Linked DNA regions of Homo sapiens. The protein of the gene in region 1 purifies or fractionates together with the protein of each later gene. This does not show direct contact. Each region holds a gene or a part of one and is shown in the gene's direction. Other genes may lie near its edges.

Region 1 (4,037 bases):
AGATGGCATTGGAGTGTGTTATTTAGAGATCTTTAATGAATGAGATGATGAAATAGCCCAGTTACCTTAATATTAAGTAAATGCTAGGATCTTAGTGTATCTTTCTCCCAGGATTCTTGCATGTGTTTTAAAGTGACAACTTTATTTTTATTTGTTTGTATAAATGTATGGGGGTACAAGTGTAATTTTGCTACATGCATGGATGGTAGCAGTGAAGCCAGATCTTTTAGGGTATCCATCACCCGAATAACATACATTCTACCCATTAATTAATTCCTCATCCTCCCCTGGCTCTCCATTGTCTTTTATTTCACACTGTGTCCAGGTGTACACATTATTTAGTTCCTAAGTGCGAACACATGGTATTTGTTGTAATAACTTTATTGAGGTATAATTCACATACCACAAAGTACAGTTCAATTCAGTGGTTTTTCAGTATATTCACAGTTGTGTATGCATCACTCCTGTCAACTTCCAGAACATTTTCATTACTTCAGAAAGGAACCCATACTCATTAGCAGTCACTCCCCATTCCCCTTTTTTCTCAACCTCTGGAAACCACTAATCTACCTACTGTCTGTTGATTTTACCCAATTTGAACATTGCATATAAATAGAATCATGCAATAGGTGCCCTTTTCTGTCTGGCTTCTTTCACTTAGCACAGTGTTTGTCAAGGTTCATCCTTGTAGCATGTATCAGTACCTCATTTTTTTAATGGCCAAGAAATATTCCATTGTGTGGATATACTACATCTTAAAAATCTATTCATCACTAAATGGACTTTAGGATTGTTTTCACTTTTGGTCTATTTTGAATAATGTTACTATGAACATTTGTGTACAGGTGTTGGTATGGACACATTTTCATTTCTCTTGAGTATATATACCTAAGAGTGGAATTCCTAGGTCAGGTGTTAACTTTATGTTTAACTTTTTGAGGAACTGCCAAACTGTTTGCCAAAGCAGCTGTACCCTTTTACAGTTCTACAGTAGCATATCAGGGTTCCAAGTTCTCCATGGCCCCACAAACATTTGTTATTGTCCATCTTTTTTATTTTAGCCCTCCTAGTGGGTGACTCATTATGGTTTTGAAGTGAAGAGGTATCTCATTATGGTTTTGATTTGCTTTTCCCTAATCACTATTGATGTTGAGCATTTTTTCCACGTCCTTATTAACCATTTATACATCTTTGGAGAACTGTCTATTTAAATCCTTTAAAACTGTTTTTTAATTGAAGTATTTGCCTTTTTTTATAATTGAGTTGTAAGGGTTCTTTATTCTGACAAGTTCCTTGTAGGATTTTTGGATGTTTTCTCTCATTCTGTTGGTTATCTTCATCTTATATGCATTTTTATTTCTTAAATGATTTGACATTTGGGTATCATTAATATTTTTCCATTGTTTAGTATTTAAATTCTATTGCTTATGATTCATTTTTCCCTTTTTATTAAAAAAATTTTAGAGGCACGGTCTCCCTATGTTGCCCACACTGGTCTCAAACGCCTGAACTCAAGTGATCTTCCTGCCCTCTCCCTCTAAAGTGCTGAGACTACAGGCATAGCTACTACCCAGCCTAAAGATACCATTCTTGACTCAAAGCATGGTTTTACATAAATTGACCATATGACCCAACAATTCCACTCCTAGTTTTCTACCCAAGAGAATTAAAAACATGCCCACACAAAACCTTGTACACGAGTGTTTATAGCAGTGTTAATAGTCAAAAAGTGGAAACAACCCAAATGTCTATCAACTGATGAATAGATAAGGAAAATGTGGGATATCCAAACAATGGAACATTATTCAACAGTAAAAAGAATGAAGTAACCAGCCGCTTTGTCATGCACCTGCAGCCCTGGCTATCTGGGAGGCCAAGGCAGGAGGACTGCCCAATTTTAGGAGTTCAAGGCTGTAGTGTGCTATGATCATTCCTGTTAATAGCCACTAGGCTGCAGCCTGGGCAACATAACGAGACCCCATCTCTCATGCACCCCATCCTGCATCATGGCTGAACATTCCAGATACTTCACAGCTCCCACCTGCTTAGCCAGGGAAGGGCCTTGCTGAGGAGTCATTGGCACTTGGCTCTGCTCCTTCAGCTTCTTCACTGTCTCATGGTCACTCCACAGGTCCCTTTTGGTGCCTACCAGCATAACAGATACATTGAGGCAATGATGGGAGACCTCTGGGTACCACTTATGCCTCACATTGGCCTAAGAGGATGAGTTGCCAATGGAAAAACAAATGACAGAGATATTGGTCTTGGGGATAGGAGAACAGTCGCAGTTGGTCATATTCCTCCTCTTGGCCAGTGGTGTCCCACAGGTTCAGGCTGATGATTTGGCCATCCACAGATGTCTGGGTGCTGTAGTTGTCAAAGACATTGGGCATATACTCCTTAGGAAAGGCATTTGTTGTATAACTGATGGGGAGGCAGGCTTTGTCTACAGCCACATCTCCTGCAATCACACATTTGATTGTCTACATTCTTCCCTTAGTCTGATCATCCTCCAGTGCTGTTCAACCATGACTGGCAGAGCCTCCTGGGCATCTCTTGTTGGGCTTTATAATTCTTGCTTTAGAAAAGCTAACATGCAAAACAAAGTAGTTAATGAGGCATTAACAATTATGGATATAATAAAGTTAATGTAAATAGCACATTCCTCAAGATGAAAAAATTAAAAACTGGTTTAAGATCTTGTGCTATCAAGATTTTGTTTAACTGTCCTTCAGCCCAGAATAGCAAGTATAACATAGCGAAAGGTAATTTTTCTGGTCAGTATAATCCCTAATTAAGCTACCCTCTTTATTATAGCAGTAGACATTTTCTTATTTATTCTAATCTTAGTTTAAAATTTGGAATTTTTAAGTGAAATTTTAATGGCAAGTGTGACTAATACTGAATATTGATCACATAATTTTGAAATGTGAGTAGAGCAAAGACCTCTTAATAAATCTTTTTTTTTATTAGAGAAAGAGATGCTGTAGGGATGGAAATTTCCCAGTCTAGCAGCTATGACCAGCTACTGTGTATTACAAAAGGAATTTTAGGTATCATGAATATACACACTGGGAAGATGATCTGCCTGTAGTCAAGGCTCTAAGCAACCTGTATAAGAAGAAAATAACCCAGCACCTTAGGAAACACTTCTTTTAAGGTTCTAGGGTAGGAGAGGCTGCTATAGTTGAATGTTTCCTTACCCCTGTGCAGTAGTGAGGAATGGCATATATTTGTGATCTTTTAAAAAGTTTGATGTCTAAAATTAGTAGTGATTACAGCTCAAATTTCTAGTTTTTTAATTAGATGATATACCTTTAAAATGTTAAATATATGCCAATCTATAAGCAGAATTTATTATTTTATGTTTGGCACAATAAAAATTGTAAGTCTTTTTCTCATGTATTTTCTCATCATAGGCCTCAGGAGTGCAAGTAGCTGATGAAGTATGTCGCATTTTTTATGACATGAAAGTTCGTAAATGCTCCACACCAGAAGAAATCAAGAAAAGAAAGAAGGCTGTCATTTTTTGTCTCAGTGCAGACAAAAAGTGCATCATTGTAGAAGAAGGCAAAGAGATCTTGGTTGGAGATGTTGGTGTAACCATAACTGATCCTTTCAAGCATTTTGTGGGAATGCTTCCTGAAAAAGATTGTCGCTATGCTTTGTATGATGCAAGCTTTGAAACAAAAGAATCCAGAAAAGAAGAGTTGATGTTTTTTTTGTGGTAAGCATGTTAGAAATATTGAGCCTCTGTAAAACTCATTTTGTTAGCACTCGGGAAGACCAGTTCCAGCACCAAAGTAATTTTTATTCAAACTATTTGCAGTTGTTGTCATTTAATTTTTATTTACAGGTTTCATAATGTTACCAGGGCTGATGTTTATGGGACCCAAACTAAATTTTGACTATTTTCTATCTACTTGTTATGTGACTCTCCGTTTTTGTTTTTTTTTTCAATGGGGAAAGGACAGGAGGCATCCTCTGAATGTACTGCTTTTATAGGCTAAAATTTCCTACTACTTTTAACTTTCTTA
Region 2 (3,500 bases), on another chromosome or scaffold:
CTCAGAGAGGCCTGGCAAGTGGAGAAGAGGAAAGCAGATGGCAAGTTGCTAGATCCTCAGTAGCACTTCTGTAGAGGAGGTGAGCCTGTTTTCCATTTTCCGCCTCTCTTTCATACATCCCCTTGCCCCCTTAACCATGAGGCACAGCTGCTAAAGCTGCCGGCAAACCCTGTGGTTTCTGAAGGACTCCTGCCCTAACTAGCCTTAGGAACACAGAGCCCCGGAGAACTTCTAGCCCTGTGGCATTTCTCCTGGCTATGTTTTAAACTTTATTTGATTGTATGTAATTTAGTAAGTTACCTTACTTTCTTTATAGGATGAGAAAGAGAAGAAAGCCAGAAAAAGGGAAGAAAGAGTGGAGGGAAGGAAGGCTCTGATGCAGGGCCCTGAGCATGCACAGGAGGTCAAGGTGCTGCCTCCTCTCAGTCCAACGTGCTTCCTAGGGCAGCTCGGGGCGAGGGAGCCAAGGCTGCTTTCCCTGAGACGAGTAGCTCCAGCTGATTTTATTCTTCAGGTTCTTCTGACTGCTTTGTATAATTTTCTTGTTCTGTTCCATCTCAGTCATGTACCAGACTAGCAGTGCTTCTCCAGTTCTAAATATCTGTTTCTACATTGCTATCAACTGGAAAAGCAGAGGACAAGGTACATTAATAGAGTCGTGTGTAAAGTACAAGTTAATGGGCTATAAGAAAACCTGTGAGCTAAAGTCTAGGCCCTTGCAACCCGCTTTGTACTGCTCAGAGGCCCTTTAGGGTGATTTCCTGGCTGCTGGCTGTGATGTGACCCAGAGGTGGGTCTTCCAGGTAAGGGAGGAGGTGGCTTATAGTGACCAGGCTCCCCTATTTTGAGGTGTGCTGTGTTAAGTTAGACGCTAGTGAGCTGAATGCTTTTTACCTTCCTGAGCCTGGCTCAGGGGGGTCAGCGGTCCAGGAGCAAAGTACCCTGAGCAGCACAATTGCCTGCTGCACCTTAGAAGGCCTTAGGAGAGGGAGTGTGGGAAAAGAGAAGACCTTTCATGCCAACATGCTCCTCCCTGCTAAGCAGATAGATTGTAGGTCCGTGGGCAGCACGATCAACTGTGCCCTGGCCCCTCTTTCTGCAGGCAGCCTTCCCTCTCCTGCCTCAGCTCCAGCAGGGCACAGCCTGCTGATAAGAGCCAGTGGCTCCTGCTGAATGTGAAAGGACTGAGGATGATGTTATCCTGCCCAGGTAATAGCAGGCCTGCATTTTCCAAAGATCATGTGTCTCTAGGGCCCCTACAGAGTCACCCATAGGAGAATAAAATTTTGGAGCGGGCAAATCACCCAACCCTTTCCCTTGAGAAATGAGGGAACTGAGACGCTGGGAGCAGAAGTTGTAACTTGCCCAAAGTCATTCAGTAAGTTTGAGGCTGGAGGGGCTGGCACCTCGGTCCTGACTCATGGTCAGTGCTCTTTCCACCCGGCTGCCCTGGCAAGGGGTCCTGGGGCATTCTGAGCAGGCACAAATGTTTTGGCCCCACTCCACTTACCCCACTGCATCGCCCCTTCCTGTCCTGCTGGTGCCTGGATTTCCCTCTGTGGGACACCATCTGCCCTAGATGGAAGAAGCATTGCGGGAGTGGGAGGAGGGACAGGATGTGGGGCAGGGGAGCAAAGTCCATAGGAGCCTTGCTATACCTACAGTCAGATGGCGAGGGGGATTATGAGGCCCCTCTGCCTCCAGTTCCCTGACGCAGAATCTAGGTACCCAGGAGATACCTGAACCTCCAGACATTCTACATCCCAGCACCTCGTTCCTGTCTGGGTCTCCCTGGGAGAGGAAGTAAGAGAGCCAGCACCTCAGGAAGCCTTGGTGAAGAGGAAGCGGGGGTACCAGCACAGACCCAGCTCCCGGGTGGGAGCCCACTTGCGGGTGGGCAAGGGCTCTGCCTGCTCTGCCCACACACCCATTATGCCTCCTCTCCCTTCCCGGCCTTCTTCCAGATATCCAGCATTCTCATGCTGGGAGGTGTGCGGCTAGCAGTCATTCGTTCATTTAGCCAGCACCCTCTGAGCACCTACTCTGGGCCAGGCCCTGTGTGAGGCATTAGGAAAACAGTGGCATTAGCCACAGTCCCTGGGATCCAGGACCTTAGAGGAGAAGGACATGGAAAGGCCAAAGCCTTGAGTTCAGAGTCTCGAGGTCCAGTGGGCATGAGCCAGGAGACCTCTTGCCTTGCCTGCATACTGTAAGTGCCTAATGAATGCAGGCTCTTTCCTTCCTTACTGTCTCTCCCTCTAGGCAATGAAGCTCACTCTCCAGAAAAGCGCTGTCAGGTGCTTTCTTCTGGACTGTGCCCAGAGGCCCTGTGTTCCCCTCCCCCGAGGCACTGCCACCTTGACACCTATGGCAGTTCTTAGAGGAAGCTGGGAAGGGTTTGAGGCTCTCCAGGGCTCCCAGAATCACCCCACAGTGGCCAGCCCTGTGAGGTTGGCACACACTTGAGTTTGGCTGGTTGGGAGTGTGGGCGCTGGCTGGGCCAATGTCCTGGCAGCTCAGGGATGGAGTGAGTTTTTCCACTTCTCTCCCAGGCCAGCTAGCTGAAGCAGACACAGCCTCCGCCAGGGCCAGGGCTGGTGGAGTCTCGGCTCCTGGCACCCGGGCAGCCCTGACTCTGATTTGGATATGCCTGGCCACAGAGCTTATCTGGTGTCCAGGAGATGAGAACGTGTGCAGATTCTCTCTGCGCCCAGCCCTGTCTCCTTCCCTCTTTTCCTGATCAGCCCCATTGGGTTCCCATTCCTTCCCCTGTAGGCCCTGCAGGCTCAGGCCCAGGGTCCTGGAGCACCCTGCAGCCTGGGGAGCTTGGGGCAGCTGGCATGGGGCAGGCCTTGCCAGGGAAGGACAGATGCAAATCCAGTGGCTTCCACATGAAAAGTAGCTGTTTAGAATGAGCCTCTCCTTTGTGGGCCTGGAGTGCGGGACCAGCTGCTAAGGAGGCACAAGTGGGGTGGGGGTGGGGAGTGGGGGAGAAGCCACCACCGCCCTTCCTCATCCCTCCTTTTTGCCCCCGCAGAGGCCCCTGGAGGGACTTTGTAATTGGTTTCTGGCTGGCAACCTCCTTCCAATTAATTAATGTAGCAATGGGAGGCTCCCAGGTTTGCTCAGGCTGTCTTTCGTACAGAATACATACATGGGTTACTTCCCTGAATCCCATCAGCTCTGTCATGGTGGGGACGGTCCCCTCTATTTAGGGACGGATAAACAGAGTGTCTGAGTGGAGAGATGACCACACCCTGGTCCCAGAGCTAATGTGGGTCAGAGGCGGGATGCACGCCCAGATCTTCTGGCTTTGAGCCAGAACCTTTTCAATCCGATCACATAATGGTCCACAACCCATGAAGATTAATCACCATCATCATGATAATAACAGTTATTAAGCAGGCGTTGGGCACGCATGATCGCATTTACTCTGTACAACCATGGGGTAGATTCTATTATCCATCCCATTTTCTAGAGGAGGAGAGTGAGGCTTAGTG
Region 3 (3,500 bases), on another chromosome or scaffold:
CTGAGCGTGGCCCGTGTCTCCCTAGAGGGTGGCCCCGCGCCCCCGTCACGTCGGAACATAAGGACCTGAATTGGCCTCCAGACGGCCCCTCCCATGTGGCTCCCCAGGGTGGGGCCCAGGCCTTGGGTGCTGCGGAGACCTCCCTCCGTAAGGTTGAGAAAGTCTGGTCTCCGGATAAGGGACCGTTAGGGCCTCTGTTCAGATCCCTGCCTCAACCAAAGCAGGCTGCCAGCTGGTGGTAGTGGGTTCCTGAATGTGCTTTTAGCTTTGGCTGTGTAGGGAGCCAGGGACTTCTCCAGTCACAGAGAAGGGCGTTTACTCCCGCATTTTCATGGGGTCCTCAGTGGGATCCGTGACCCACAGAGATTCAGAAGGGCCTTTCTGGGATACAACAGGGTCTGGCCAAGCCTGAGGGGTAGGGACGGGGCTACTCCCGCAGCGCTAGTTGCAGATGGTCACGGGAGCACTGGCCACCCTGAGCTCCCACCAAGCTTTCCCAGGAGGAGGACACCCTGGGGCCACCTTTCATCTGGCTGCAGAGGACACAGGAGTGTCAGGCTGGATTTGGGGAGCGTGTGCACCCTGGGCAGCCCCCTGAGGCTCTCCTTCCACCCGCCCTCCCGCCCACAGTGCCTCCTGATGACTAGATTCTGGAGTCAGAATTTGGGTGACCACACCCTGGTCGGTTTTGCTCACGTGCTTCGGGTCGGTTGGATTCAGTTCCTCCATGTGGGGCCGTGGGATGTCACCACCCTTTGCCACTGTCCTTGCAGGCCGGGCGCCCAGGCGTGTGGACCCGAGCCCAGCCTTGCGTCTTTCCTCCCAGTTGGTACCAGGGGCCTCTTGCCTCCACTCATGCAGAGTGGACCAGCCGCCTCTGAAGCAGCCCCGGGGAGAGGAGTGCCAGGCACACAGACTCAGGAAGCTGGGGGTGTCAGGGCACCAGGAGCCTCTCAAGCGGTCCTGTTGGCCGTCTTTCTGAAGGGCAGCTGGGGTTGCATCATTTCCCCAAGTGGATCCTGCCAACTTTCTGGGGCTTCTGGATGAGAGCCCTCTCCCCACCCCACCCACCCCTCCCCGCATTGTGGCATCAGTGCTGCTGCTTCCAGGGAGCCTTCCTGGCCATCCAAGCCTCCTCTCCAGGTTCCTGCCCTGCTGTAGTCCCCAGGCCAGTGCTTGGCAGGTGCTCAGGGAATGTATCCACCAACCAAGGTTTGGGGTGGCTGTCTCTGCCTGACCACTTTCCCCAGGCCCCTGGCGGGTACCTGAGCTGTGCTCTCAGGGCCTCAGGAACCTCCTTCCATATTCAGGGCCTGTGCCTGGGGAGGCTTCAGGGTGTAGCAGCTGTGCCCATCCCAGGCTGACCCACCCAGCTTGCCTGGTAGCCCAGCCTCTGGGCTAGTGTGCCGTGGGGCAGGGGATGTGCTGTAGCCTGGTGCAGAGTCCCCAACCCCAGAAGGGGGCCATGGAAGCTGACACCCCAAGTGGCCGCCCCCCTGCTCTGTCTTGCTTCGGACACTGTGGCCGGGTCCAGGATCCTGGCATCCTGGGAGGTCTCTGGCTTTGTGGGCAGCCTGCCTGGCCCGCACAGTCTGCCTGTCCTGAGGGTGAGACACAGGTCAAGCCCACAGACCCCCTTGCTCCCCTGCTGGGGCCTCCAGGCTCACAGACCACCCCACCCTACCCTGTCCTTGCCCAAGCAAATGAGAGGCAGGGGCTTCCCGGGCTGCTGCTGTCCCGCCCTCTGTGGGGCAGGAGGAGGTGCCCACAGAGGCTGGGTGGTGATAGCCAGGAGATGGGCTGGCATCTGCATTACCCAAGCTCTGCTGCCCATGGTGGCCTTTCTGGGGGTGGGTGCTGGTCCCTGCCCCCTGCCCCACCCCTGATGTCTGCTCCAGAGACAAAGGTGGGGAGGGTGCTGAAGAGGAAGTGTTTGCCCAGGGAGAGGCTGCGGCTCCTCCTGAAACATCAGCCCTGTGGGTCCTGTTTGCAGAATCTCCGGCCTGTGAAACTGTGAGGGGATTCGGCCAAGACGTCCTCTTCCCTCTGCCTCCCACCCAGGCCACTCTTCACCTCCACCATGAGCCTGGACATCCAGAGCCTGGACATCCAGTGTGAGGAGCTGAGCGACGCTAGATGGGCCGAGCTCCTCCCTCTGCTCCAGCAGTGCCAAGTGGTCAGGTACGCTTGCTCTCGGGGTGGCCTTGGGGTGCTGGTGGGGCAGGCTGGCGGGTGGCGGCTCCCTCTGAAGGGTGCATTGCTCTGGAACGCCTTGTTTGTGGACATGAAGTATGAATTCTGTGCAGCTACCACGTGCATGAGATGTGATTCTTGTGTTTCTTTTTGACAATTTAGGAATGTAAAACCCATTCCAGGCTCATGCAGCATGGGCTGAGGTGGGCGGGCCGAGGTGGGCGGCCACTGGCCAGTGGGTCTCTGGCTCCGGTGTCTCAGCTCCTCTCCCTCCCTTGGAGACACGAGGGCAGGACACAGCTTGGGTCCCCTCCGTGAGCCTCCATGGGGCGCTGCTTGTCCCTGCCAAGCTGGGGGCTGGGAGTCCTCGGCCCTCGAGGTCCTCACAAACCCAGCAGCTTCACAAGCAGGACACGAGTGCCTGGGTGGGCCGCATCTTTTCTCTTTTTACCTGGTGATTTCAAGTAGTGTCAGGTTTGCGGAGGAGTTACGAGGACCGGACGGGGCTCCCTGGTGAGGTGGTCCTGTGTACCTGCGGACGCTAGCTCTGGCCCAGCACCTCCAGGCAGGGTCTGCTTTTCCGCCCTGCCCTTTTCGTCTTCCTCACTGGTCCAGGATTGCGTGGCCCTCAGCCCTCTGTCTCCTTAGCCCTCTCCCGTCTGTGACTGTCCCCTCGTCTCTCTGGGTTCTTGGTGGTCTGAGGGTCTGGCCAGGCTCCTGCAGGACGTCCTCTGTTGGGGCTTGTCTGGTGGTTTCTTGTGGTTGAAGTCCTACAGTTTTGGCAGGAATGCAGGGAGATGCCGTGGGGCCTGCCAGGAGCGTCCTGTCACAGGCGCCGTCTGCCACCCTCTCCACTGTGACGCCACTGCCTTTCCTCCTGTGACTGATCAGTGCCTTCGAGAGATACTTTAAATTCTTTTTATTTTTAGAGACAGGGCATTGCTCTGTCACCCAGGCTGGAGTGGCTCCCTCATGGCTTATGCGGCCTCAACCTCCTGGGCTCAAGTGATCCTCCTGCCTCAGCCTCCCGAGTAGCTGGGATTATGGGCATGCGCCACCACGCCCGGCTACTTTTGTATTTTTAGTAAAGACGGGGTTTCTCCATGTTGGTCAGGTTGGTCTTGAACTCCCGACCTCAGGTGATCTGCCTGCCTCGGCCTCCCAAAGTGCTGGGATTACAGGCGTGAGCCACCGCGCCTGGCCACGTGCGAGCATCTTAAACAAAACTTTCATGGAACAGTTCCTCCTTTTTGTTTCATTTCTGAAATGTCTTGTGTGACTTGCCTTGCTGTCTTCTGGGCCCACTG
Region 4 (3,500 bases), on another chromosome or scaffold:
CTTAACTTTCTATTATAGTTAGCTTTCTCTTTAACTGTCTGTACTTAAGGTAGTATAAGTTGATATCAGTGTGTTTCTCATCACTTTTCACTGGGCCTAATTGTTGCTCCAACACTGAAAGGAGGCATTTATTAGTTATATTTGCTGATATAACTTTCATGTTCTCATAATAATTAACCTGCTGTCAACGTAAACCATACTTCATGGGGTAGCTCTCAGCCTGCATTGATGTGGGCTTTTTGGGTAGGGTTGCTTCATTGGTTGCAGTGGACTCATATCATAAAATTCTTACTCCTTTTTTTTTTTTTTTAAGAGATGGGGGTGTCATTCTGTTGTCCAGGGTGGAATGCAGTGGTGTGGGTAAAGCTTACTGCAGTCTCAATCTCCTGGGCTTATGCAATCCTCCCACCTCAGCCTTCACAGTAGCTAGGACTGAGGTGGGAGGGCTAGCAAGCTATGTTGCCCAGACTGGTCTCAAACGATCTTCCTGCTTCAGTTTCCCAAAGCACTGGGTGAGGTGTGAACCACCTCACCCAGCAAATTCTTACTCCTACGATCATTTATTCAGGTCATACTATGTTTGTAAGGGTAAACTGATAAAAAGGTAAATGTATTCTTCTTAGAGAAACAGCTGAAAGCCCAGATTTATTGCTTCTATTCTTCCATTTCTATGACAGGAAAACACCTCTTTGAGGTTATATTTTTCAGATCACAAGTGTGTAAAGTCTGTTTGTGTTTACAGATATTTTCTGACGAAGATTCAAACTTCAGTTATCCACTTCCAAACCCTAGTAAACCAATTTTTTCCCTTTAATGGTGAAAGTTGTCACATCTTTTATTCTCATATCTTCAAAGGTCTTAATTTCCTAATGCTTTAATGTTAAATTATGGAGAATAGTAGGACATTCTTCTTTTCTATAGTATATGCTTGCTCAAGAGAAGTTTCTAAGACTGGACACTGTGAAATGACAAAACAAGGAATTAAAAATATTTCTCTCACTTATATATTATTTCTGGCTCAATTCTCCAACTTTTGAGTCTAGAAATGAACTTGCATATCAGATATAATTTAAGAAAATATTCTCAGGAACTGCTGGGAAGATTCTAAAACTATTTTACTGTTTTTAGCTATAAGGAAGAGAATAATGTATTATTTAATGTTATTTTAAACATAGTGTTGTTTCAAATAGTAAATAACATTTCACAAGACATTTGAAAATAAGCTTTGAAGTTGACTCAAAATTCTATGCTAAACATGTGATCCATAGATACACTGATGACTGCTGGCATTTCTGTGGAAATGAAGAATTGTTTTATTTGTTTGTAATTATTTGGGTTTCAGTTGCTTTATTTTTAAGAAAAAAAAGCTGAAGTGTCTGGGAATCCTTTATGACATACAGACATTTTAATTATTTCAAACACGTTTTCCCCCTTAAGTGGGTAGCAAAAAAAATAAAGCATACTTCAGGCTCATATTTTTAACCATGCAACAAGAAAATTGTTACAATTTCTGTTCTGAGGAGTAGCCTTCATACTTAGTATTTATAAATATTGAAATGTATGTTAATTTGGGGAAAACATAACAGATATCCATGAAGGCTTGTATGTCATGGTAGGTAGTTACTATTCGATACCACAAAAATGTCTCTTGCCCTTAAAACCAGAACACGAGGCTCACCAGACAGATGACTGAATGGAGTATGGAAAATCTTTATTTCTGTTTTTCTTAGGCTATGTAGGACTTAACTTATTGTGCATTGGTAACAGATTGTAGAACATAAGCTGAAAGATAAAATTCTTGACCTTAATGTCTCATCTTAAAAAGAAGCATTGGTTGACATTCTATATCTCGTATTACTTAAAAATAATGGGGGAGCGCAGTATATATTAAACAAAGATTGGCTTTGTGGTGATCATTGTTGAAGGTGGGGTGATGGCTATGTGAAGGTTCACTATATATACTCCCTACTGTTGTATAAGTTTGAAATTGTGCATAATAGATTTATTTAAAACACAAAGCATAGAAATATCTACTATAATATTATGGTGAGAGCAAAATTTGAGGGGGATGTACACCTGCATTTTCGAAGAATATATACATTTCGGAGACCGAATTCAAAATGAAAAACCGGGCTGCTGTCCCGCACGGAGCCTCTGGGCGCCGCTGTCGGCCAGTGCAGAGCAAGCGCTGACGCCGGGGATCCGTCAGCCTCTGGCCTGGGATTCCCTGCGCAGCCAACAACAGAAAGAAGAAAACCAGCTCCCACACAGAGCCTCCCGGCTGCGCAGACCTTTCCCAGCACAGCGGATTGCCAGCTCCGAGACCCGGGACTCCTCCTGTCCTGGGCCGAATGCTCTTTTAGCGCGGTAGAGTGCACTTTCTCCAACTGGAAAAGCGGGGACCCAGCGAGAACCCGAGCGAACGATGGGAGGGAGCTGCGCGCAGAGGCGCCGGGCCGGCCCGCGGCAGGTGCTATTTCCTTTGCTGCTGCCTTTGTTCTACCCCACCCTGAGTGAGCCGATCCGCTACTCGATTCCGGAGGAGCTGGCCAAGGGCTCGGTGGTGGGGAACCTCGCTAAGGATCTAGGGCTCAGTGTCCTGGATGTGTCGGCTCGCAAGCTGCGAGTGAGCGCGGAGAAGCTGCACTTCAGCGTAGACGCGGAGAGCGGGGACTTACTTGTGAAGAACCGAATAGACCGTGAGCAAATATGCAAAGAGAGAAGAAGATGTGAGTTGCAATTGGAAGCTGTGGTGGAAAATCCTTTAAATATTTTTCATGTCATTGTGGTGATTGAGGATGTTAATGACCACGCCCCTCAATTTGATAAAAAGGAAATACATTTAGAAATTTTCGAATCTGCATCCGCTGGTACACGACTATCGCTTGACCCTGCCACGGATCCTGATATAAACATAAACTCAATTAAAGATTATAAGATAAACTCTAATCCTTATTTTTCATTAATGGTTAGAGTTAATTCCGATGGTGGCAAATACCCAGAGTTATCTCTGGAGAAACTCCTAGACCGGGAAGAACAGAGATCTCATAGCTTGATATTGACTGCCTTGGACGGAGGGGACCCACCAAGAAGTGCCACCGCTCACATAGAAATTTCTGTCAAGGATACCAATGATAACCCCCCGGTTTTCAGCAGAGACGAATATAGAATTAGTCTTAGTGAAAATCTGCCCCCTGGGTCCCCTGTGTTGCAAGTGACAGCCACTGACCAGGATGAGGGGGTCAATGCTGAGATAAACTACTACTTCCGAAGCACTGCCCAGAGCACAAAACATATGTTCTCATTGGATGAGAAAACAGGTATGATTAAGAATAACCAGTCATTTGATTTTGAAGATGTAGAAAGGTACACCATGGAAGTGGAAGCGAAGGACGGAGGTGGTCTCTCTACCCAGTGTAAAGTAATCATAGAAATCCTTGATGAAAACGACAACAGCCCAGAAATAATCATCACTTCTCTCTCTGATCAGATTTTGGAGA

Evidence for each region.
Region 2: the proteins of DSTN (region 1) and CORO2B purify together in Homo sapiens (co-immunoprecipitation; one large-scale study listed by IntAct). This does not show direct contact.
Region 3: the proteins of DSTN (region 1) and RNH1 fractionate together in Homo sapiens (co-fractionation; one large-scale study listed by BioGRID). This does not show direct contact.
Region 4: the proteins of DSTN (region 1) and PCDHGA9 purify together in Homo sapiens (co-immunoprecipitation; one large-scale study listed by IntAct). This does not show direct contact.

The regions. Positions count from the first base shown.
Region 1 is NC_000020.11:17,597,319-17,601,355, forward strand, and holds part of DSTN (destrin), read left to right. Parts: intron 1-3,419; coding exon 3,420-3,727; intron 3,728-4,037. UniProt on the Homo sapiens protein: Actin-depolymerizing protein. Severs actin filaments (F-actin) and binds to actin monomers (G-actin). Acts in a pH-independent manner.
Region 2 is NC_000015.10:68,581,993-68,585,492, forward strand, and holds part of CORO2B (coronin-2B), read left to right. Parts: intron 1-3,500. UniProt on the Homo sapiens protein: May play a role in the reorganization of neuronal actin structure.
Region 3 is NC_000011.10:500,743-504,242, reverse strand, and holds part of RNH1 (ribonuclease inhibitor), read left to right. Parts: intron 1-1,993; 5' UTR 1,994-2,080; coding exon 2,081-2,181; intron 2,182-3,500. UniProt on the Homo sapiens protein: Ribonuclease inhibitor which inhibits RNASE1, RNASE2 and angiogenin (ANG). May play a role in redox homeostasis. Required to inhibit the cytotoxic tRNA ribonuclease activity of ANG in the cytoplasm in absence of stress.
Region 4 is NC_000005.10:141,405,778-141,409,277, forward strand, and holds part of PCDHGA9 (protocadherin gamma-A9 isoform 1 precursor), read left to right. Parts: intron 1-2,243; exon of another isoform or gene 2,244-2,425; coding exon of another isoform or gene 2,426-3,500. Other genes in the region: PCDHGB6 (protocadherin gamma-B6 isoform 1 precursor), read left to right, coding at 2,426-3,500. UniProt on the Homo sapiens protein: Potential calcium-dependent cell-adhesion protein. May be involved in the establishment and maintenance of specific neuronal connections in the brain.